Regions from separate parts of the Homo sapiens genome. Here regions 2 and 3 are each linked to region 1. The links come from fine-mapping of genetic effects on gene expression. A gene starts in region 1. Each other region holds a variant in brackets. All regions are shown on one strand. Distances are between the middles of the regions.

Evidence for each region. PIP is the estimated chance that this variant, and not a neighbour inherited with it, causes the effect. A credible set is the group of variants that fine-mapping cannot tell apart.
Region 2: its variant is the best candidate, but not a certain one, in a credible set for the expression of SNX9 in fibroblasts (GTEx, PIP 0.82).
Region 3: its variant is the best candidate, but not a certain one, in a credible set for the expression of SNX9 in whole blood (INTERVAL, PIP 0.55).

The regions. Positions count from the first base shown.
Region 1 is chr6:157,819,353-157,827,675 of GRCh38, forward strand. SNX9 (sorting nexin 9) reads left to right here and starts at 3,894. Exons shown (of 18, transcript NM_016224.5): 1 at 3,894-4,094. The coding sequence starts at 4,083. RefSeq lists a silencer at 3,703-4,022 and an enhancer at 4,673-4,722.
Region 2 is chr6:157,766,402-157,774,724 of GRCh38, forward strand. No RefSeq gene overlaps it. Among named protein-coding and RNA genes, the nearest start is that of SNX9, 53 kb to the right of the region's middle. The variant T/C (reference allele first, on the strand shown) is at 4,735.
Region 3 is chr6:157,871,995-157,880,317 of GRCh38, forward strand. It overlaps SNX9 (sorting nexin 9), which reads left to right. Exons shown (of 18, transcript NM_016224.5): 3 at 1,108-1,182; 4 at 3,057-3,182. Among named protein-coding and RNA genes, the nearest start is that of SNX9-AS1, 17 kb to the right of the region's middle. RefSeq lists a silencer at 1,817-1,886. The variant C/T (reference allele first, on the strand shown) is at 3,297.

The sequences.
Region 1 (8,323 bases):
GAGGACGTCATACGTTTATTAGGATTGGAATGGCACCAGCTGCACTCCTTTCCACGTTTATTTTCAAGGTCACCCCAAGGTTTTCTTTAACCTCATTAAATTCATGCCCTAAAGTGAGAGGAGGTATCCCCTTGTGCCAGACCCAGGCTGACTCTGTATTGTTACACATTATTCTCATCCTCCGATCCTTACATTAGGTGACCATCACACATTTTCACTCCGTTCCACATTAGTTCCCATAGTTGCACTTTCCCATGCTAGTTTCCCATTAGTTGACCAAGCATTTAGTTGGGCTCTGAGCTCTTAAAAACCAAAGGAGAATCTAATTTTGAATAAAAACACCTGGCCATACTGAACAAACGCAGGGAAGAGGTGGTGGTCATTATTTTCCTGTCCCCCCAGCTGTGTGGCTGGACGAAGCTTCCTGTGAATCCTAATCACTTTACCTCCTGTGGCATGATTCAAAAAAAAAAAAAAAAAAAGCAGCTAGAGTACAAAGCCTAAACAGAGTGGCTCTGTTGCTCTGCCTCCAGGTCTTTTTCTTTTGAAAGTGCAATCTAGTAATAACCAAACGCAGTCTGCAAATGCAAATCCAATTGCTTAACTAATTGTGTTCTCACCCCTGGAGTAATGGAAGTTCATGCTGTAGAAGAAAATCTGAACTTAGCATGGCCCAGGGTTCTGGGTTCTGGGTTCTAAAGGCAGGCCTGCGTAGAGAATCAACTCTAAGGAAGCTCGCTCAAAGGACGGAGGTGGACAGAAGAGAGATATGCATGGTTGATCAAGTGGGAGCAGAAGACAAACGCCACCACCGGGTGCAGTGGCTCACGACTGTAATCCCAGCACTTTGGGAGGCTGAGGCAGACGGATCACTTAGGATAAGGAGTTTGAGACCAGCCTGGCCAACGTGGCAAAACCCTGTCTCTACTAAAAATAAAAAATAAAAAATAAAAAAAAACTTAGCCAGGCATGGTGGCAGGTGCCCGTAATCCCAGCTACTGCGGAGGCTGAGGCAGGAGAATCACTTGAACCTGGGAGGCGGAGGCTGCAGTGAGCCGAGATTGGGCCACTGCACTCCAGCCTGGGTGACAGAACAAGACCCAGTCTCTCTCTCTATATACAAATATATTCTATGAAAGTGGGTCTCCTCTATAACATTCATGAAGTAATGTTGATTTTGACTGACGTATATAAAAATAAAACTCCTAAGTTTAGCAGTATTTACTGGAGATATACTACCCAATTCATTACTAAAAATGTGAAAAAGATTTTAGTTATGTTCAAGATCCCTTCGGTGTGGCTTATTGTGAAAGTGCACATGTTTATCTCTTTTTTTTTTTTTTTTTTTTTGAGTCGGAGTCTTGCCCAGGCTGGAGTGCAGTGGCTCGATCTCGGCCCACTGCAACCTCCGCCTTCCGGGTTCAAGTGATTCTCCTGCCTCAGCCTCCTGAGTAGCTGGGACTACAGGCGCGTGCCACCATGCCCAGCTAATTTTTGTATTTTTAGTAGAGACGGGGTTTCACCATGTTGGCCAGGATGGTTTCGATCTCTTCACCTCGTGACCCGCCCGCCGCAGCCTCCCAAAGTGCTGGGATTACAGGCGTGAGCCACAGCGCCCGGCCATGTTTATCTCTGTTTATGTACTTTTTCATTTGTTTTTCACAGTCTTGCTCTTTTTAAAACAACAACAACAACAAAAAACTTCTAGAAATGAGGTCTCACTATGTTGCCCAGGCTGGTGTTGAACACCTGGGCTTAAGCAATCCTTCCACCTTAGCCCTCCACCATTACTTCTAAAAAATAAAACCAGGGTTATGAAATTGTTCTGGTGGGAAAAGCTTGAAGTCTCTAGTCTTCTTGCTTTCATGGTGCTGGGTGCCCAGGATGACTATTTGCATAGGATTTGCCAGATGAGCATGTGGAAAGGCCTGTCTTCACAGGTGTGCCCCTAACTTTGCACCTTCCTATCAAGGGATGCATTGTTGAACGGCTGCAGAGAGAGCTGTACCCAGCCTTCACATTTAAAAGAATATGGAAAACTCATTACTTATGACATTGCCTGAGTTCAAATCCTGGCTTTTCCACATACTAGTGTGTGCTCTTAGCCAAGTTATTTCTTCCATTGTTTATTAAAATATAACTGCTGTTTTTAAATGAAGTCATATATACACATGGTCAAAAACTCTGACAACAGGATCTGGCGAATCTTTCTCAGAAATTTTCTAGGAATGTGTCACATATTTCCTTTTTTTTTTTTTTTTTACATAAATGTACCATACATAATGTTCTTTTTATCTTTCTTAACACCTCTTAGAATATTATCATTTTCTTACGGGCTTCCTAGTATTTTTGTTTGAATGGATGTATCTTATTTACTGAAACAGTCCTGTTAACAAACACATAGGTTGCTTTCTGGTTGGAGTTATTACAGAACAATCTTTGATGAACATCTTTGAACACTTGTACAAGTGTTTGACAGGATAAATTCCCAGGAGGGCTGCTGGGTCCAAGGCTACGGTCATTTTCGATTTGAATAAGTATTACCAAATGGGCAAGTTATTTAAGTGATCCCTGAGTCGCTCTTCTTTGTAAACAGTGGACAATAATGAGTTTCTCAAATGTTTCTTATAAGGATTAAATGAGATGGGGATGTGGAAGCCTAGTATACAGCAAGCAGGCCGTCAATGAATGTTGGCCTCCCAATATTTTTTTTTACGGAGAAAGACAACTATTTATGCATATTATGATGACTATAGCTTAACCATGAGCTCAACAAACACAAAAATTCACAGAAAATTCTGCAATACCGTATCTATTTTAAACCCCATTATTGAATATAACTAGTGAAATCTCAGGTCAAATAGAATGTATTTAAGAAGACACAAACTTGACATTAAACACCAGAGATTTACATTTGATAGTTGTCTCTTCTTACAAATATATCCCTCATAATAATAAAAAAGCACTCCACTAGTATGCCAATTAAGACACATCTTCCAGTCGTGTTTTGTCCTTGAGTGAAAAATCTTGCTGCTCAATTCAAGTCATTCGTTTATTCATAACACCCATATATATATCTCCAACTCTGGAAAGAAACACTGACAGAAAGATGGAAAATTTTAGAGACCTCGTTTCCACTTCAGAGAGCCTGTTGTCCCCCAAACCTCTCGGGCCCTCCGGTATTTTTAAGCTTATCAAGATTCCAGAATGAGGTTAACGGGGCGTCACAGAACGAAACCCCCCACCGTCCCGTCCCAGGGGCTTCAAGCCAGGACCCCGGCCTGAGGGAGCCTCCGGGCAGGAGGAAGAGGCCCAGGAAGCCATCGCTCCGCTCCTTCCCAGCTGTTTATGTGGTACTCAGGGTACTCGGCCAAGGGCACGGCGACCCCGCAACACCCCAGGCGTGGGGCAAAGACAGCGGGGTTGCGGGGCTCCTGTCTGCCCGGGGCGTCGAGAGTTCCTGCCGCCCCCTCCCGCCTCATGCACGGAAAGCGCCGAGCCACGGCGTGCGGCGCCGGCCGAGCGTGAACCGGAGTCGGGGTTCGGCTACCCCGAGCGGCTCTGTGGGCCGCGGATCGCTTCCCCTGGGGCGGCCACGCAGGGTTGCGGGCCATGGCCTGGGGCGCCCGTCCGGACCCCGCCGCTGCGCGGGACGCCGCTCCCAGCCTCGACCAAGGGCGCCCGGGGGCGGCGGCGGCGGCGGCGGCGGTGACTGCCCGGGGCGGCGGCGCGGCGCGGGGGCGGCCAGGAGGCGAGGAGGCCGGGCCGCGGCCGAGGGCCCAGGGCGCGCTTCCGGCGGGCGTCGCGCGCGCCGCGGTAAATGGGAGGCTCGGCCGACAGGGGCGGGGGCCGCGCAGCCGGGGACTTTCAGGAACTGCAGGAGCGTGCGGCGCGGGAGTAGCCGAGCGCCCAGCGGCTGGGCCTGAGCGTCGAGACTCGGGGCCGAGGCGGAGGAGCGGCCGCCGCGCCGGGGCCCAGCCGGAGCCGCCGCCCTCGCCCTTGCCTTTGCCTGCGCGGCTCAGAATCACCATCCGCGGCGCGGGAGACGAGCCGGCCGTCCCGGGCCGGGGGACCCGCCCGCCATGGCCACCAAGGTGAGGGGCGCGCGGCGCAGGCCGGGCCGGTCGCTCAGGCCCGGGGCGGCGCGGAGAGGGTCGGGGCCGGGGCCGCGGGGAGGGTCGGGGCCAGGGGTGGTCGAGGGGCCACTCCGCTTCCTCGGTGGAGTCCCCGGGCGGGTCCGCGGCCCAGCCAGTCCCTTCTGGGCATGGGTGCGGCGGGCAGTGCAGACAGACCACCAGGATCGCACCGGGGGACGGCGTCGGGTCTGGGCGCGGGTTGGGACCCCGGGCGCAGCGAGGTTTGGGAAGTTTGCACCTGAGCGTGGGCTGCGGCGGGCTCGCCGGGAGGGGCCGCGGGACGGAAACTTCCCGCAGCCCGGGGAGGCCCCCGAGGCGACTGGCGCTCTGTGGCGTCCGGCGTCCCCGCCGCCCCCACGTCCCCTCCCGCTGCCGCCTGGGGGACCCTCGCCCCCGCGGGGCGGGTGGGGGTCGAGACCTCGGCGGAGAGGACGCGGCGCTTCCCGTCCCGGCCTGCGGGGGCTCGCGGCCGGGGAGGGACCGAGGCTGGGACGCCCCGCGCCCCTTTGCCTTCGCTGCTGTTATTTTTTTCTTTTGTTTTGCTACCTTTTCATTGTGAATGGCATTGCCGGCATGAATAAAATATCAAGAGGGAAATGACTGTGCTTTCGATTACGTGTTTGCCTGAAAAAAGGCCCAGGCCCGAATTACGTGGTGGAACTTTGACTCCTGCTTCGTCATTGGCTAGGAGCGGTGGTTTGCTTGTTTTACGTTATTGTTTATGAAATTAGCAGTCACTCTTGGCTACCTGAATTTTCAAAAGCCACCCTCCCCCGCTCCTTTTCCTTGGGCGTTTTCAGTAGTTACTTGATGTAGAATAGCCACTGGGGAAGTCACGGTCACGGAAGGGAGGACCTGGGGGAGGAGGCTCTATACCTGAGCCATTAACTGATCTGTGATACACTGTGAGGAGTGGGTTTACTTTTGCACTTAGTTTTTGTAATGTCACTTTGTTAGCATCAGCACCCCTTTGTCTATTTGTTTTTGAGATCTCTGAGCTACTTTTGGGTTGCTAGAAACGTTATTTTTTATTTTTCGATAGGTGTTTGCTTTTTTTGTGGAGTGTTAAGGTAGAAAATGGTAAGAAATGTGAAATCTCTTTGAAAGATCAGCATTGCTTGACTTCGGTCTGCTAGATGTTGTGCTGTGGTAAATTTTGTGCTCTGAATCCATCTAGGTGCAGCGTTTGTAGAGAAATGGGGATTCTCCTCCAGGGAACCTGTTGCTGCTGTTACTGAAATAATTACCTTCTTGTTAATATATTATTGCCTGTGCTGTGCTTTGGTTTTATTAATGCGATAGAACTTGCCACCTTTTTAACGTATTAATTTTGTGTTGACCTTTTTAAAAATAAAACTTAGGCCAAGGATTTCTAAGGAAATTTGATTTTGAGGTTTGTTGCCAGACATTCCAGAAATTACCAGTTACACATCCTAGTACATGCTCATCTTGCAACCTTAAAAGCGGTTTATAGGCCGGGCGCGGTGGCTCACTCCCACCTGTAATTCCAGCACTTTGGGAGGCCGCGGTGGGTGGTTCACCTGAGGTCGGGAGCTCGAGACAAGCCTGGCCAATATGGTGAAACCCTGTCTCTACTAAAAATACAGAAATTAGCTGGGCGTGGTGGCGCGCGCCTGTAGCCCCAGCTGCTCTGGAGGCTGAGGCAGGAGAATCGCTTGAACCCGGGAGGCGGAGGTTGCAGTGATCCGAGATCGCGCCACTGCACTCCAGCCTGGGCGACAGAGCGAGACTCCGTTTGAAAAAAGAAAAGACGAGACTCCGTTTGAAAAAAGAGAAGACGGTTTATGACATAGAGATCTGTCTAGTGGTGGTCAGTGTGTTTTTACACTCTGGTCTACTGAGGCATGTTATCTGTACTGTCCTTTAAGTGGAATGCAGTTTAGCAACTAGTGCAGGTATATATAGTGAAATTTTTATTTCATAGTTAATCCTGAACTTAATTTTTTTCCAAAAAATCGAAAAGTGGTTCTTGTATATTAATCTCGAATTGCATGTGTCTTTGATTAAACACGAGCCTTAAAGCATGCGTAAGGACTTCCTACTTCGTTATCTACACCACTCCAAAGGCAAATTCCAGTAGTTCTGTTAGTTTCTTTCGGCTGCCTAATCACTGTTCCACATGGTGCTCATTTCCATGTTTACATTGTGACAAACCATTTCCATTTTAAGAAAAAGAAGAGCAACGAAGCAGTTATTAAAAGAAGACCCTTCCTTTGTTTTCTGACATGCTGGTGATTCTTGTGTCAAACCAAAGTCTCATTTTTTAATTGTTCCCAGAGAGTCAAGTTGGTGCTTTCCTCCCTTCCCCCATATGCACACTCCTTCCCCACACCTGAGTAGTTGTGTTTTTTCTTTGTCTTCTTCAAGGGGTGGGGAGAATGTGCTTAGTAGTAATGACTAACTTTTAATAAAAATGTAGGCTCCAGTGGCACTCAGGCTGTTGCTATAAGTATTAACTGATGAAAAGTAAATTCAGTATCTGGATATTTTAAGGGATGTCGATTTCCCTTTGAATTTATCAGAGACTTGGCTATAGTATCTTCAGATACAATTTTCTTGTTTGTTCTTACGTATTAAGGATGTGGTTATCACTGAACTATTGGGATTTTTAAAAACTCCACTACTATATTTTACAATAAAAAAGGAAATTATCTTTTAGAAGAAGAACTTTAGTTTGACAGTCCTTCACTGCTAAAGAAAGTTAATCAGGGTCGGGCGCCGTCTCACGCCTGTAATCCTAGCACTTTGGGAGGCCGAGGCGGGCGGATCACGAGGTCGGGAGATCGAGACCATCCTGGCTAACACGGTGAAACTCCATCTATACTAAAAATACAAAAAAAATTAGCTGGGCGTGGTGGCGGGCGCCTGTAGTCCCAGCTACTCGGGAGGCTGAGGCAGGAGAATAGCGTGAACCCGGGAGGCAGAACTTGCAGTGAGCCGATTTTGCGCCACTGCACTCCAGCCTGGGTGACAGAGTGAGACTCCATCTCAAGAAAAAAAAAAAAAAAAGGAAAGTTAATCAGTAACTGCACATTTTAAGGGGATTATCTATTTTCTATTTCTACTCCTTACTCAGTAGAGTGCTGCATTCAGTTTAAGTGTATACACTCACTCAGTGCAATCAAGTCTTGTTTTACAAATATTAATACAAAAGCTGCAGAGCATTTTAGTCTTGACCTTTATTGGAAGCCTCCAAAGGTTATATTTCGACCCAGCCAAAATATAACCTATTTATATTATAGGTTTTATATATATATGATATATAAATATATTATATTATATATATATATTATATTTTATATATAAATATATATTATATTTTATATATATATTATATTTTATATATAAATATATATTATAGTTTATATAATATATAAATATATATTATAGTTTATATAATATATAAAATATATTATAGTTTATATAATATATAAAATATATTATAGTTTATATAATATATACATATATATTATAGTTTATATAATATATACATATATATTATAGTTTATATAATATATACATATATATTATAGTTTATATAATATATAAACATATATTATAGTTTATATAATATATAAACATATATTATAGTTTATATAATATATACATATATATTATAGTTTATATAATATATACATATATATTATAGTTTATATAATATATAAACATATATTATAGTTTATATAATATATAAACATATATTATAGTTTATATAATATATAAACATATATTATAGTTTATATAATATATAAACATATATTATAGTTTATATAATATATAAACATATATTATAGTTTATATAATATATAAACATATATTATAGTTTATATAATATATAAACATATATTATAGTTTATATAATATATAAACATATATTATAGTTTATATAATATATAAACATATATTATAGTTTATATAATATATAAACATATATTATAGTTTATATAATATATAAACTTATAGTTTATATAATATATAAACTTATAGTTTATATAATATATAAACATATAGTTTATATAATATATAAACATATATTATATTATAGTTTATATAATATATAAATATATATTATATTATAGTTTATATATATATGAGATATATAAATATATAATACATTGTCAGTCATCCTGTTTTATTTAAAAGATCAAGTTCTGGAAAAGAAATGA
Region 2 (8,323 bases), 53 kb before region 1:
CCACCTTGCACTGAGGTGCGTGGAAGTTGGCCTACAGCAACGAGAGACAGAGCCCTGAAAGCTTCTCAGACTTCAGTCCTGCCCTTCCACAAGCTCTGCGGAGGCCCAGTCCTGCTTCTACTGGACACTTCTCAGGTATTACATTTTTCTTGTTTGCTTAACTCTGGATGATTGTACCCCATAGAACCAAAAGATTCCTAACTACTATCTTGGAATCCCATCCTTCTGTGGGGCTCGGGATGCCAGCTGATTGGACAAGCCTTGTGGCTTCTCTCAGGCACTGACTCTGAGTTCTGTATGAGGGGCTTCTGGACACTTGGGTGTGAAATCTGGCCCATTGATTCTAAGGATGTGTAATCACTGAAACCTGTACCCCCAATAAATCTTTGTTTCCTCAACTGTAAAATGAGAGAAACTTTTTTGAAAATGTGAATATGATAAAGTGCAAAATGCTTGGACATTGGGGTTAGCCTTGGGATAAAGCCACGTTCAGGGTCTCAGTTTCCTCATTGGGTTGTTTTGAAAATTAGAAATATATATAGGTAAATGTACCCAGTATGTGACAAGTACTAAATGAAAGGTACTTTTATTGTTACTATTACTAATTACTCCTTCAACTGTTACTAGCGCTGCTTCTCCTCCTTGACCTAATGAATGTGAAAGCTCTTTGTCATCTATAAATGTCAGTTCCCCAATAAAGACATACTCAGAGGATCTGCCTTCAATATGAAGCTGCCTCTGACTGTCTCATCTTTGGTACTCAGCTGGAGGTATTTCGCTTGCTGGCACTTTAACTCCCCTGCTCTGAGCGGTTGAGCTAGCACAAGGGCCATACAGAAGTAGAAACAGACTTTCTTTTCTCTGTCTTTGAATAAGAAAAGATGAAGCAAAGCCATGATGGGAATGCTGTCAACGCTGGTGACAGTGAGGCCTGGACGCCTGTCCTCAGGCCACTTCACTGCTCCGAGTTTTCTCATCTGTAGAGCCAGGATGATGGCAGCACCTACCTCATGGGGTCATTAGAAAGACTGAGGGTAGTATGTGGAAAGTGGGGCCCGACACAAATTATTTTCATGGCGACCCTCTAGCAGCCATGAAGTCTGTCCCTGCATTATCGCGAACCTTCCATGTGTTTTTCCTCAATCAGCAATTTTCCTACTAGGTCATCATTTTGGGAAAGAGATAAATCAAACCTCCTTCCCTGAACATTTATTACTTTATTTGGGTTTTTTAGGAACTGAAATTTGCATTCAATGCAAGTTAAACGGAACAATTTTGACTGTTCAAATGTACCACAATCTCAGTTCATATGAAGATCCTGTTTTCTCTTTAATCACAAATCATTTTAAAACAAAAGTTAAAGTAATTTCATTCTAGAAAATTGTTTAAAAAGTGACATGTTGAAGATGAAAGTATGGCTTGGGTTCCCAATGTCAGGCCAGAATTGATTCCCAGAACTGCCTTGGTAAATGGTAATACTGTGAGGCCCTCGGAGGGTGCAATGGGGAGGTGCAGGGCATGTGACCTCAGAGTGGAGGCTCCTGGGGGGACAGCTGGGCCATGTCTGCTGCCTCACAGGCCATCAGGGAGTAGGGGGATCTACTCTTCCTGGTTTGTCCAGGACCATCCCAGTTTTAAAACAAGAGTCTCAGGCCCAGGTACTTCCTCAGTCCCAGGTGAACTGGGACAGTTGGCCACCCCAGTCTGACCTGTCTCATGTTCCTCTGACCCTTCGGTCTCACCATCCACGCTAACCCCCGCCTAACCTACTCCATAGACTTTTCTTAAATTTTGTTTTTCCTTCCTTTACCTACATGGCAGAAGACAAATATAACAGAAGGAAAGAAAGTGACTGGGGAGAGATAATTAAGTGGGGTTGGAAATGATTGTTTCTTACAGCCATGGCCTTGGAGTTGAAGGCCCGGCCCTCACTCTCCTCCCAGGTCAGGACCTCAGCAGCAGTCAACACCACCCTGGGGCTCAGCAGCACCCTGGGTTTAGCGCGATGGCTGTTTTGTCTTCTTACTTTTACATAAATGTTTTTAGAAGCAGATGAACTGGCACCGTTGACACCATACTTCACTTCCTCTTCATACCCTTTCTTCTGTGGGGTGTAGAGCAGGTCAGGAAAGATGTTTCCCCTTTCCAGCCAGAGGAAATACATTTGCAATTCAAATGAACCCTAACAGCAAATTGCCCTTGCCTGGTACTTTTTTTAACGTAAAATTTCCTGGGGACAAGTTGTTTCTCATGACCATCAAAGTACCATACGCATATTGTTGCAAACCAGAAAAACAGAGAAGAAAATTTTGAAACGCACATATCATCTCAGAAGTCACTTTTTAAAAACACAATTGGCCGGGCGCGGTGGCTCAAGCCTGTAATCCCAGCACTTTGGGAGGCTGAAGCAGGCGGATCACCTGAGGTCAAGAGTTTGAGACCAGCCTGGCCAACATGGGGAAACCCCGTCTCTACCAAAAATACAAAAATTAGCCTGCAGTGGTGGCAGGAGCCTGTAATCCCAGCTACTCGGGAGGCTGGAGCAGGAGAATCACTTGAACCTGGGAGGCAGAGGTTGCAGTGAGCTGAGATTGTACCACTGCACTCCAGCCTGGACGACAGAGCAAGACTCCGTTCCAAAAATAAATAAATAAATAAATAAATAAATAAATAAATAAATAAATACACACTTAATAGCAACACAAGCAGTGGACACTTTGGTGAGCAGTACTTGTTCAGATGAGCCATGCTGTCTTTCAGCAGAGCCACCAGCTCCAAGGATGCTCCTCGGGCCTCCCATGCAGCAACAGCAGCAGCAACAGCAGGCACTGCATTTCCCTCATTGCTAAGTGACAGCAGTTCTCTCTGTGTGTGACACTGAATTCACCAGAGAGCCTGGCATCGATCCGACCAACAATCAACAAATTTTTGCAGAGTTCTACTCTGATGCAGGCGCAGGCACCCCCATCTTCGTGGACAGGAAATACACTGAGCTGTACCAGCAGGAAGAGCACGCTGGGGCGTGGGCAGCCAGGGGATTTCTCCTGGTCTGCGGAGGAAGGGAAAGCTCCTGGAGGACAGGGGATGTTGTGCTGAAGTCAAGACCTGAAGGCTGAGTAAGCGTCAGCCAGGGGAAGACAGAGAGGAAGGGCGATTCAGGCAGAGGGGGTCACCTGTAAGGAGGCTCAGGGGCCAGGAGCATCCCTCCCGAGGGCAGCGTGGGAGAAAGCCACAGTAGACACACCAAGGCCGGAGAAGGCCTGGCTGGAGCTGAGGATGTCAGGGAAGGAAGGAAGGGACAGAAAGGGCCAGGTCTGGAGGCCTGTGTGGAGGATTTTTGGTGGAGGCCCATGTGGAGAGGCAGTGGAAGGGGAAGCACTGGGTGTGTTGTGGGGAGGGATCTAGGCCACACACCCAGCAGTGCTTGGAAATCGATGACAAATGCAGGTGAAAATGAGGTCCCAGATAACAGGTTGAAGAAGGAGAGCACCAGGGGTCTGAAAGCAGAACAGCAGCCCCCAGGGCATGGCTGGCTTCACGGGCAGGTGAGCTGAGCCAGCGCATGGTTGGGCTCAGTGCTTGAGTAAATGTTGTCACCATCTTGAAATGCTTAGTAATATTTGAACAAGAGGTCATGCAGTCTCATTTTGCACCAGGTCTGCAAATTATGTAGCTGATCCTGCCCAGGGCTGAACGTTTTCCACAGATCTATGCAGAATTTCGCACAGCTAATGGTACGTGGACTCCATCCAAGGCCTCCAGATTTTTTGTGGATACCATCAGGCAGGACAGGAGTGTGAGGGAGGCTCACAGCGCCCAGCTCAGGGCCGATGGTGTCTGTGAGTGTGTCAGGGATGGTGTGTGGATAAAGTCCATCAGAGCAGTGCACGCATGGAAGACTTCCTGCTCGCCAGCCATGGAGACAGGAGACTGAGGGCATTTCAATAACATGAGCTTTGAGTTGGCTGCCTGAGTAAAACAGGAATTTTCCTCACCCAAGTTTCATTTACTTTAATAAGTCAAACTAAAGAAATTCCACAAGTTCAAGCCAACACCAAATGGGTAAGCTATTTGCCAGAAAATACTTTTTAAAAATGATTTATTGGCCGGGTGCGGTGGCTCACGCTTGTAATCCCAGCACTTTGGGAGGCCAAGGCGGGCAGATCACGAGGTCAGGAGATCGAGACCACCCTGGCTAACACGGTGAAACCCCGTCTCTACTAAAAAAAAATAATAATAATACAAAAAATTAGCCAGACATGGTGGCAGGCGCCTTTAAGTCCCAGCTACTTGGGAGGCTGAGGCAGGAGAATGGCATGAACCTGGGAGGCAGAGCTTGCAGTGAGCCGAGATCGCGCCACTGTACTCCAGCCTGGGTGACAGAGCGAGACTCCTTCTCAAAAAAAAAAAAAAAGATTTATTATTTTATTTGGCTAAGAATTTCATAGGATGCCTGAGTCTCATGCTAAACAAAATTTGCACTGAAAATAAAATTATTGTTGTAAAGGTTTAAAAGACAATTTGTGAATATACCTATGCTTATATTTATTTCAAGGAGAAAAAAAGAGAGAAGGCTTTACCAAAACTTAAGATGTAACACAATAAGCTCATTATTCAGGCAACTGTCTATAAATTCACCAGGATTGCTATGCAAAATATGATAGGCCTGTAGGCTCTGAACCAAATAGTTATTAGTTCACTATGAAATAAGAAAATAAATGACTAAGAATAACT[T/C]AGTCATTTATGACTAAGGTATGGATTTATGACTGAGGTATGGGTCATTTATGACTGAGGTATGGATCATCGTCATGAATTTCTTTAGGTGTTTTATATTCACTTACAGCAGACAGTGTCTATAAAATACTAAAAATTATAAGAACAGGAAACTTGGCAAGCTCTTCCAGATATTTACAAGGCTAAATCTTCTGAAGCCTAGTAATACAGTTAATAGGAAGAGCTTTAAAGCCATAGAGTTTTAGGTTCAAACATCAGCTCCCTCTTCAGCAAGTTGCTTAACCCACGGGAACCTCAGTTTCCCCACACACAAATGGATGTAATATCTACTTTACATTTATAATATATATGTCGTAATTATTCAATAACTTGTATTTTTAAAAATAGTATAGCTGCTAACAGGCAGTTAAATGTTCAGAGATGGTAGGAACTGGTTTTGATTCTCAGAAGAGAAGAGGAATCGAGGTGGAAAGGATGGTGGAGAATGAGTCAATGAGATAGTGTCGCCCAAGATGCACGCAGGAGGAGCTGCCAGGGACATATCCAGAGTGGGCTGGCTGGTAGGCAATTTTTTTTTTTTTTAAGATGGAGTCTCACTCTGTCACCCAGGCTGGAGTACAGTGGCATCATCTCGGCTCACTGCAAACTCCGCCTCCCAGGCTCAAGCCATTCTCCTGCCTCACCCACTGGAGTAGCTGGGATTACAGGCACCCACCACCATTCCCAGCTAATTTTTGTATTTTTAGTAGAGAGAGGTTTCACCACGTTGGCCAGGCTGGTCTCGAACTCCTGACCTCAAGTGATCCGCCTGCTTTGGCCTCCCAAAGTTCTGGGATTACCGGCGTGAGGCACTGCACCCGGCCCGGCAGCCAAATTTTAAGAACCAGGATGCTGGCTGAAGGATGGGTTGGGGGGACTCAAAAGGGCAAAGAGGAAGAGTAGGGGTGCTGTCATGGTCATCTAGCTTGATTAGGGCTGGAACTAAGACAGTGGAGTGGAGGACAGAGAAAACATGAAAGCTATTTTAAAAATAGGATAAACAGCCTAGATGTGGAGTGTGAAGGAGAGGACAGGGATGGGTCAAGGATTTCTGGGGTGAAGGAGGCAGTGGGACTCCCAGCAGGTAGGACTGTGTCCCCCAAAAGATATGTTCAAGTCCTAATGCCCAGTACCTGTGACCTTATTTGAAAATAGGGCCGGCCTTTGCAGATATCATCGAATTAAGATGAAGTCTTGCTGGAATAGACCCCAAGTGGGCCCTAGGTCCAATGATTGGCATCCCTAGAAGAAAAGAAAATGGGGGCCAAACACAGGGATGAAGGCCAAGTGAAAAGGGAGGCAGAGAGTGGGGTGATGCATCCGCAGGCTAAGGACCAGCACAGCCCGCTGGCAGCGCCTGAAACAGACGAGGTGAGGACGAATCCTTCCCCAGAGCCTCTGGGGAGAGCATGGCCACAACGCCGCCTTGGTTTTGGACTTCCAGCCTTCAGAACTGGGGGAGAATACATTTCTGCTGTTTTAAAGCCACCTGCTTTGTGGTAGTTTGTTATGGCAGCCCAGGAAACTAGTCCAGGGACCTTCCCTGAGATAGGAAAATACAGAAGTGTGAGGTTAAGAAAGTGTGAGGTTAAGAAAACTAGGTTAAGGCACATTGAGCCCAAGTAAGGAGCCTCAATATGGGAAATCTTTGGGTGGAAACACGTGGAGGCCACTAGAGCGTGGAGCTTAGGAAATAATCTGGGCTGGAAATGGAGATCATGGGGGAATAAGGGGTGAGCTGGAGCTGGACACGGATAAGGCCACCCAGGGAGAATGGTGGGGAGAGACGAGAAAGCAGACGACGGGAGCTTCTCCCAACGGTTCTTGGTATTACAAACTCGACATCCACATCTGAGGGAAAGTGATGATGTCGTCACTAAGGCAATTCCAGCTGAGATACTGGTGAGCATATTTATCCTCTAAACACATTCAGCCTCCATTGTTTCATGTTTACTCTCCTAAGAGAAGACACCTACAATCCTTTCTCATGTCATGCTTCCCTTAATCGTATTTTTTTTAATTAAGTAAAAGTCAAGAAGAAAACAACACAAATTGATCAGGAAAGAATATTCATTCACCTCAAATACTGACTGGGTCCCTCCTTGACTGCAGCCAGGGTGCTAGGCCCCAGCTACACTGTGGACACAGTGGACGGGTCCCAGCCCACTGCACAGAGGCAGCCGAGGTGCAGAGGTCACATGTCCAGAGGCACGTGGAAGAAGTCTGCAGTGGGGGTGGAGGTAGGTAGCAGGTGAGCCAGGCGACCTCGGCAGGAGCCAGAACAAGTAGGGCCTTGTGCACAAGTAAGAGGTTCAGCGTAAGTTTTCCTGAGGGCGATGAGAAGCCATGGAACGGTTTAAAGGGCAGCAGCAATATAAGGAGACATTTGCATGTCAGAAGACTTAACATGTGAAAAGCAAAACTGAAAGGGGCAAAATGCATTGCAAGGATGTCAGTTAGGGAGCTTTGGCTGCCGTCCAGGGAAGAGATGATCAATCCCCAAGATCAGGGAGGAGGCAACTGGGATGGGACAGTCTGAGCAGCGTCTAGATTTCCAGTACATGCACTTGATGGCAGGATAAGGTGCTGAGTTGGATTGGAGGAGGGAGGACGTTAAGAGGTGAAGGATGTCAGAGTATGGGGAGCCAAAGTGTTGTTTTTGAGCAGGAGCAGAGAGCAGGCTCCAGCGGAGGTGATGAGGTCGCCTGTGCACGTGTTAAAGGTGAGGTGCTATGGCACGATTAATTGGAGAAACTGCGAGTGAACAATTTGATATTCCTGGACACCCTCTCTGGAGTTTGGAGAACTGGAAGTCTGCACAGACCCTGAGATCCCATGAAGAAAGCGTCTGGACTGAACAGACGAGAGCCAACTTGAGATGAAGGTGCACAAGGGCAGAGGAGCCTGCCCAGGGGACCGCAAAGGGATAGGGTCAGAGAGAAAGAGGCAGACGCAGCCCAGAGGGAGAGGACCCAATGGAAAGGCCAGCCAAGCTGCACTGGGCTTGGCAGTGAGGAAGGGATTGGGAAAGAGACTTTCCAGGGGAGTGGAGGAGGTGGAGGAGTGGAGGAGGTGGGGGAGTGGAGGAGGTGGGGTAGTGGAGGAGGGATGTGGGAGGGAAGGTGAGAGTTGGGCTAGAAGTGAGAGGCTACAGCTGGAGGGGATGCCCAGGAGAGAAAGCATCTTTGTAAGTGGAACAGATGTGAGCATGAGTGGGTTCCACACTGGTGGGAGGAAGCCGTAGAGAGGAGGAGGTTGAAGATAAGGAGGGGGGCTTCCAAGGTGAAGTGGAGGGTGAGGGGCAGAGCACAGATGGGGCGATCTGCCTCAGATAGGGGGAGGAAGGCCCTGCGGTCATCGACCCACGTGTCTGCCTTAGGAATGGCCCCGTCTGCAACAGACAGGTCTCTGCACACCTGCCGGGGTCTCCTTCCTCTGGCATACTTGGGGGAAAGCTGGGAGGAGCGCCGGATCACATTTCCTCTTGCATTGGTCCATGCTGCAACCCCTCACCTCCGAAGCCTTCACATCTGCTGTGCTTTCTGCTCTC
Region 3 (8,323 bases), 53 kb after region 1:
GTCCTCAAGTTGCTATTGTGGTCAGAAAGTGACAAAAGTTGTGGCTTAAAGTGATTTTTTAAGAGAATGTGATTATTCAGATTCAGATTATTAACTAATTAGGGCATTATTTTAAAACTGTAAAAACTCTTACTATGTTAAGATGAGAAAGTGGGACCTGCCCCTTAACATTGTTAATAATTAATAATAATATCAACATTAATAGTTTAATATTTAGATAAAGTTTCTTCCAAGGATAGCAACTTCTATTCTGAATAAAAGTTACAATTTTTCCTTTGATCATAGATTGAAATGGCAATACTGGGATATAGAGTTCTACTTTATTACTTAGTTTATTAATATTATTTATCCAGAAGAACTGAGGAACCATGGATCAGTTCACTTTTTCTGCATAACAATCCTAAAACTTACTAGTTTAACCCAGTAACCATTTGTTACTGCTTAGGAATCTACAAGTCAGCTTGATGGTTCTCCTGAGCTGCACTGCGTGTGTCTGCAATCACTGGACCCTGCTGGGGACTGACTGGTCTAAGGTAGCCTCACTCATGAGTCTGCCAGTTCTCTGGGTTGGCTGGCTTTGAATGGGGCAACAGGGAGACTGGGTCTCTGTCATCATCTAGCAACCCACATTAATTCGTATAGCGACTTGGGTGCCAGAAGAGTCAGCTGAAGTGTGCAGAAGCCCTTGAGGCAAGGTTCTGGATTCCCTGGAGGATTTCCACTTGATTCTGTTGACCAGCGAGGTGGCAGAGGGCAGATTCCAGGCCTGGGATGCGCATCCCACCGCTTCACATTCAGAGCTGCAAGCCACTTTTATTATCTGCCGCAGACCAGTACACAGACAAGATGAGGGTCATCTAATCATCAGCTGTTTTCAATCTTTGATCACTTATTATTGAAGTTTGATTTTTCTTGTTTTTAGGTTACATCATTTTCTGAAGTAAAGAGAAGGCTTAAGAATTTAAGATTTTGAACGGTGTTCTCTAGGAATGAAAAGCTTAATGTTAATTGCTTTTTTTATGTATAACAATTCCTCCACACAAAATTTCTCCAGGAAATCTCAACTGTAATCTTTTTCTTTTTTTTTTTTTTTTGGTGACTTATTAGGATGTAGGTGGAGGATGGCTGGAAGGAAGAAACATCAAAGGAGAACGAGGGCTGGTTCCCACAGACTACGTTGAAGTAAGAGCTTCCTGTCATTCATTCATTAGAGCTCATCTTTGCCAGGCATCTTTTTATGAATTATCAACTTACAAGAAGTCAGCAACTTTTTGCAAAACAAAATTTCCATTGTAAATATAATAAATGTTAACTATATAAAATATGGAAACTACATTGAAATAGAACTAAGAAAAATATTACCTGTAGACCCAAGCTTCAAAGAATGACTACAGATATTTAGGTTAAGTTTCTTCCAGGGATAGCAACTTTTAATTGGTCTGAATAAAAGTTAGTATTTTTCCTTTGCTAATATTATCTATATTATAAATATATATTATAAATTGTATAAATTCAATAAGATATATGAAATTATATCTCAATATATCTGTTAATATATACATTTTAAATATATATTTATATTTTTATAAGCAAAATATATAAATTTTATAAAATGTATTATAAATTATATAAATTATAAATATAGATATATATTTATAATATGACACATATAACGTATTTTTCCTTTGCTGATATTGCTGCCATCTATAATATTGTTTATTGTACAATAGACTCACAGTTTAAATAGATTTTTTTAAGTGCATATCTCAGTTCCTTCTCCCATTCCCATAGACAGAGGGGTGTCTTGGGGGAGCTGCTGTGGGGATCTCCTGGGTAGAGCTGTTAGGATGGATACCCAGGAGAGCAACACAGCAGCCTGGGCTGGTCCTGCCTGGGACACCCCCAAGCTGAGCCAACCACCTGGCGCCCCCTGCTGGTTGTCTTTCGGTCCCTCCAAACCGAGCGAAGGTTCTTGGTAAGCTTGTCTTTCATGTTGGGTGACAGAAAGAAGCGAAGGTTTCCTGATGCCCTGTGAGTACAACTGGAGCTAGATCAAGAATAAAGGTACCTTTGGTTCACCTCCAGGAGAAAAGAATTCCCCCCAGAGGATGTTTACCTGGGACCTGTCTGCAGAGTGAGATCTAAGGCCGTCCTTCTGTTGTTGATAGACAGTGAGGGTGGGGAGTCATGACCCCTCAGAGAATCCGATGCAATCTCTAGGCTTTCCCTCAGAAACGTGTGCCCATGCACACACCACAGCCTTTTCCATACAACTGCAACCCCCTATTCACAGGCCCCTGGCCTCACTCCGTAGGTCTTATGTTGAAGTCTTGTTTTACTTGTATGCACTTTGCATCCAGGAGCCCACAAATTGACAAGATTGAGAAAAATCTGAGAATTTAAGTTGATATTGGCAGTAATTGGATTTTCTAGGATTCTGCTTATATAAAGGAATAGTGATTACAGATATTCTTGGGTTTGCTTACCTTTAAGAATATAAAACCCCCTCTATTAGAAATAGATCCTGCAGGCAGAAAATCAGTAAGGACGTGGTTGAACTCAGCACCATCAATAAATTGATGTCCACTTAGGGACATCTATAGACTGCTTCATCAAACCACAGCAGCATACACATTCTTTTCAAGCTTACATGGAACATTCTCTAAGACAGACCACATATTCTGAGCCATAAAACATACCTCAACATGTTTGAAAGAAATCATACAGTGTCTGCCCTGAGACCACAATGGAATCACACTAGAAATCAAAACAGAAAGATAGATGGAAAATCTGTAAATACTTAGAGATTGAACAATCCACTTCTAAATAATGCATGGATCAAAGAAGAAATCTCGAGAAATTAAAAAATAGTTTGAACTAAATAAAAATGAAAATACAACCCATTAAAATATGAGTATGCGGCAAAAGCAGTGCTTACAGAGAAATTTGTAGCATTGAAGAATATAAACCCTTTTTGACAATTCTTGCTTGCCCTCGAAGACTCCCTGAAGTGACCGTAATCTATGAAAATAATTGCGGCTCTTTCTCCTATTCAGATTTTACCCAGTGATGGAAAAGATCAATTTTCTTGTGGAAATTCAGTGGCTGACCAAGCCTTCCTTGATTCTCTCTCAGCCAGCACAGCTCAGGCCAGTTCGTCGGCTGCCAGCAACAATCACCAGGTACGTCTCACTTCCTCCTTCTGGATGTGGCTGGCTTTACGGAAAACAGAGCGTATTTGTGAAGGCTTGTGATGCATTATAGCTATTGCCATTCCCCAAAAGCAAAAACAAAGT[C/T]GCTTTTAGGTTGTTCTGTGGCATTTCTGTTGGGTACTAACAAAGAAATCACCTGTTAAGCCTGATAATGACTGTTTGCAAAATTTATTATAAGAGAAAAGGCAGGGTATTGAGGGTTGCTTTTAGAAGTCTGTCATGATATGAACACAGACCCCAGAAACTGCAAATACCCTCTTAGATAAAGGCATGGAAAGAAGAGGAAGAAGAGGAGGCTCTTGTTGTTGAGGAGGTCAGTGTCAGAGCCTCGGCCTGGATCAGGAAATAGATGCCCTGGCCCTGGCATGTTGCTTACACTCTCAGAGCTAGAGGCCCTCATCCTGCGAGTAGAAGCAGTGCCTGTGAAAGTCTACCAGATCCAGGCACTCAGCACTTGGTACTCTTATTGTATTGCTTCCAGGAAACTTAGAATAGTGGGATAACTTGAGAAGAATACAAGGAAATTTTACATTAATTTTAATTAAAATTTGACTAGTTTAGGTGAATTTGTCTAGTTCATTTATTGCCAAATGATGACACAGAGTAAGTGACAAGAAGAAAATTGAGAAGACAGGTATCAAAATATTGTTGCTGCTGGGCACAGTAGCTCACGCCTGTAATCCCAGCACTTTGGGAGGCCAAGGCAGGTGGATTGCTTGAGTGCTGGAGTTCGAGACAAGCCTGGGCAACACGATGAAACCCCATCTCCACACGTTAAAAAAAAAGTTAAAAAAAAAGAATTAAAATATTGTTAACTGCTTACATCTTTAGAAATGAATGGGCTTTAGGAGATGTTATTTCTTGATTTTTTTTTTAACTACATAAAAGGTTTTAAATTCTATCAGGCCTGATGATAATCATATCACTTACAAGTATTTGCTTATAAAATATCTGTTTATTAGCCAGGCACAGTGGCTCACGCCTGTAATCCCACCAGCACTTTGGGAGGCCGAGGCGGGCGGATCACCTGAGTTCAGGAGTTTGAGACCATCCTGGCCAACATGGTGAAACCCCATCTCTACTAAAAATACAAAAATTAGCTAGGTGTGGTGGCAGGCACCTGTAATCCAAGCTGCTCGGGGGGCTGAAGCAGGAGAATGACTTGAACTGGGAGGCGGCCACTGCAGTAAGCCGAGATCGTGCCACTGTACTCCAGCCTGGGCGAGTGAGACTCCTCAAAAGAAAAAGAATATCTGTCAATTGACCTTCCAAGTGAGTTTATATAAGTTTATCACCATATACTAACTGCAGGTTTTATACATTTCAAAACAGCTTTTTGTAGACATTCTGAATTACAAATTAGACTCAGATATTTAAAATTTGCAGGCAAGGTGATTGATCACTGTAATTGAAGAATTCTCTTCTGTATTTTATTATTCTATACTACTTGAGAACATTGGCCAGGTAAGGGTTACTCACTGTGAAACGTGAATAGTAGTTATACCTCACTGGAAGTTTTCCCAGGGGTTCTCAACCTGAGCCTCATTGCCGTTTGAGGCCCCGCGCCCTTTCCTAGTGGGGCGGGCCCATCCTGGGCACTGCAGGATATTGAGCAGCCTTCCTAGCTTCTACCTACCAGGTGCCAGTCACATGCACGCCACCTCAGTTGTGACAACCAAAAATGTCTCCAGATATAGCCAAGTGTTGCCTAGGAGCAAAGCCAAGCCAGTTGAGATTCACTGAGTTATACAGAAGCACCCATGAAATGGGTTTGCATTAATAAAGGACAAGATTTTAATAAAAGAATTGTAATGAGGTAATGAGATCATAGAATAAGTGAGGCAAACAAAAAATAGAAATATTTATCTTATTTTAATTCTAGGGACTGACCAGCTATTATCTCAAGATAGGTGGAGGCAGTTTAGCTAATGAAAAGAAATTAAAACTCAGATTTAAGTCATGTTCTGTTAGGAAATATATTCCTTGGTATTTACTTGTAGTTTAATATAAACTGGTATAAGTCTAAAATTTGTTTCGTTTAGGTTATTTAGAAGGTAATAAAAGAAAAAAAAAGCGGGGGGGGCATCTAGTCTAACATTGAATCTAATCAGATCCTTTGAAAGCAAAGAAAAATGAACTGAAACTAGAATTAACAAAATGCAGAAAGCATAGCCGTCATTAATTTGAGCATTTGAATTTAATGTAAATCAAGTAAAAATATTTTAACTGCTATCTCTGCCCTCTGTTATCTGGGATATGAGAACAATTTAAGTAGGCCAAAATTTGGGTACATTTTGTAAATACCATGAAAGATGTCACGAGTAGGAAACCAGATGACCATTAATTGGTAGCTTTTTAAACATTTTCCTATCAGGTTTGCCCATTGCTTTCATTTTCTGAATGCGGGTAGGAAGATGTGTGCTCTGAGGTGAGCTGCTTGGGAGGCTCTGATTGCCTGTGCTCTCTCCCAGGGTCGGTTTTGTTTTGAGAGCGGGAACCTCAGAGAAGCTGGGCCTCTCTCCTGTCCATCAGGCCCATGGGCACATCCCCTCTCAGGCATGCATCTCTTCAGCTTGGCACACTCTGCCAACTTCTGAGCCAGTGTCTCTTTACTCATCTTAGCATCAGTAAGTTTAAATTTGACTCTCCTCCCACACAAGCAAGTTGAAGCCCCACATTCAGTTGGTTATCCAACTTCCTGAGTGTCGTATTTTTCTTTAAGTATATCTTTTTAAAGATCTCTTTGAATAACTTATTTCGAGCCTGCTACTCTTTCCTTGACTTTGTATTCTTAATCTGTGCTGCATTTCAGAGTAACTAGTTCATAAATGTATAACCTACTATGTAAGATAGCACTTTCTTTTGGTTTTTCTTAAAACTCCTAATTTCAGGTTGCTTGGGGGACCCTTTGGTTCTAGATTCTTACTGAGTAGTCTCAGGTGAGCAGAGTTGCTGGTGTCAAGGCAGTGTTGCTGCATCCAGGTCCCTGGCCCACTGTGATTGCTTTCCTCTTTTGGTGGTGAGAAAACGCTTTATCAGCCAAAACGCAGTTCAGCTTGGCTGCAGTTTAGACTAGAATTGTCAGTGTGAAAGGAATATGATGAGTTGTTCTTTAAATGGACTGAAACAGTTTGATTTGGAAAATTATAAAGCTGTTTATTAAACTACTTGGAGAAAATAATAGACAGCATTTTTTTTATGATCTTGGAATATGGAAGCCCACCATTTTTTTTTTTTTTTTGAGACGGAGTCTCGCTCAGTCGCTCAGGCTGGAGTGCAGTGGCGTGATGTCAGCTCACTGCAACCTCTGCCTCCTCCTGGGTTCAAATGATTCTCCTGCGTCAATCTCCTGAGTAGCTGGGACTACAGGTGCCCGCCACTACGCCCAGGTAATTTTTGTATTTTTGGTAGAGATGGGGTTTCACCATATTGGCCAGGCTGGTCTCAAACTCCTGACCTTGTGATCCGCCCACTTCAGCCTCCCAATTGCATCCGGCCTATGGAAGCCCTTTCTGAGACTGACAGCACAAAGTCTAGTGGCCATTAAGGATATAATTGATACATTTAAGTAAACAAGTAATATTAAATTAGCAAAAATACTTCTGACTTATGACGGATACAGGCTAATTCCATTCATATACATACACTCTTGCTAATCTGTAAGAAAAAGATGAAGAATTCAGAAAAATAGGTAAAGTGTATAAACAGGCTGTCCTTTGGTGGGGGAAGGTACTAATAGTTAATATACTTGGGAAAATGCTCATTTTAAGATTCTTCTATCAAACTAGCAGAGAATGAAAACAGTTTAAAAGCTAGTGTCATACAGGTGTGGTCAGACAGGCAATGTCATACAAAGCGAGGGAAAGGATAAAGTGATGAAGCTTTTCGGGGCTGGTTCGGTAATGTATATGAGTATTTACAATGCATATCTCTAAGGCCCAGCGGTTCTGAGTTCCTCCTGCAGATCTGCTCGCAGAACGCAGGTTTCTGGGCAAGAACGTTTCCTACGGCATTGTTTGTAACAGCAGAAAACCGGAATGTAAATGTCTGTCAGCAGGGGACTGATCAGATGAACTATAGGCAGCCACGCAGTGGAAAGCTGAGCTTCCCTTAGGGAGAGTGAGGGTAGATTTAGATGTACAGATAGAGGTATGATTTTTTTAAAAGGCACCTCAGTATGGGTAATGTTATCTTTCTTGTGTTTCAGTGCACACACATACACACACACCATAGATGCAAAGTGTGTAGAAAATGTATTGAAGGATACCCAGGAACTGAATCAAACTCTCTTCATTTTCTTATTCAAATACAGATTTTATATTACCCAGATAAGGACAACCATTTTATTACCTTTGAAAAGAAAGCATAGTTTTTAGTGGTTAATATTAGTTTCATTATTAGTTACTTATCGGTTATTTCACAGTTTCAAGAGTATTTCACGTTAGTGGCTGAACCACTAGAATGAATGGACCAGCTGATGGGAATGAATCTCAATTGTTAAAAATCTCTACTCCTGTGTGTGCTAGTCTTGTTTTTCATCAGTTATTGTTGTTTAGATTACATCACTGCTGTGATTCTGAAAAGGTTTCAGTATAGATCTTAAACTCTCAGATTACTGCTTCTTTAGAGTACTTACTTTTGAGAAATTAATAGAAAGTTTTTGTTTGTACCTTTCTAAAGAATGAGAACAATGAGGTTTAAAAGCTACTTAAAAGTTCTGTAAACCTAGATGTCTTATCTGAAGGTTTTCTACTTGAGAGGTTTGTTTTCTGTCTCCTTCAAATACTAGAAAGATGTGTATACTTGGAATAAAGCTGCTTTTGTTTTGCTGAGAGCCCTTCTGGCCTCTGTCACATGCTCTCCCTGGCATCTCTCTGTTTTTCTGTTTCACACCCCGCCAGTCCCCAGGTGAGTGGTGTGGTGGGAAGCATGTAAGCTTTGCTGTTAGATCCAGGCTTGCCAGTGCGGCTCCACTGTGTAAGAATTGTGGCTTTGGCATAAGACCTGCCTCCTGAACCTCCTGAATAGTCAGTGGATTAGGCCACCAATATAAAGTAGTGCCGGACACATGGAAGATATTTCATAAATATTTTCCTTCTTTTCCCACTTCT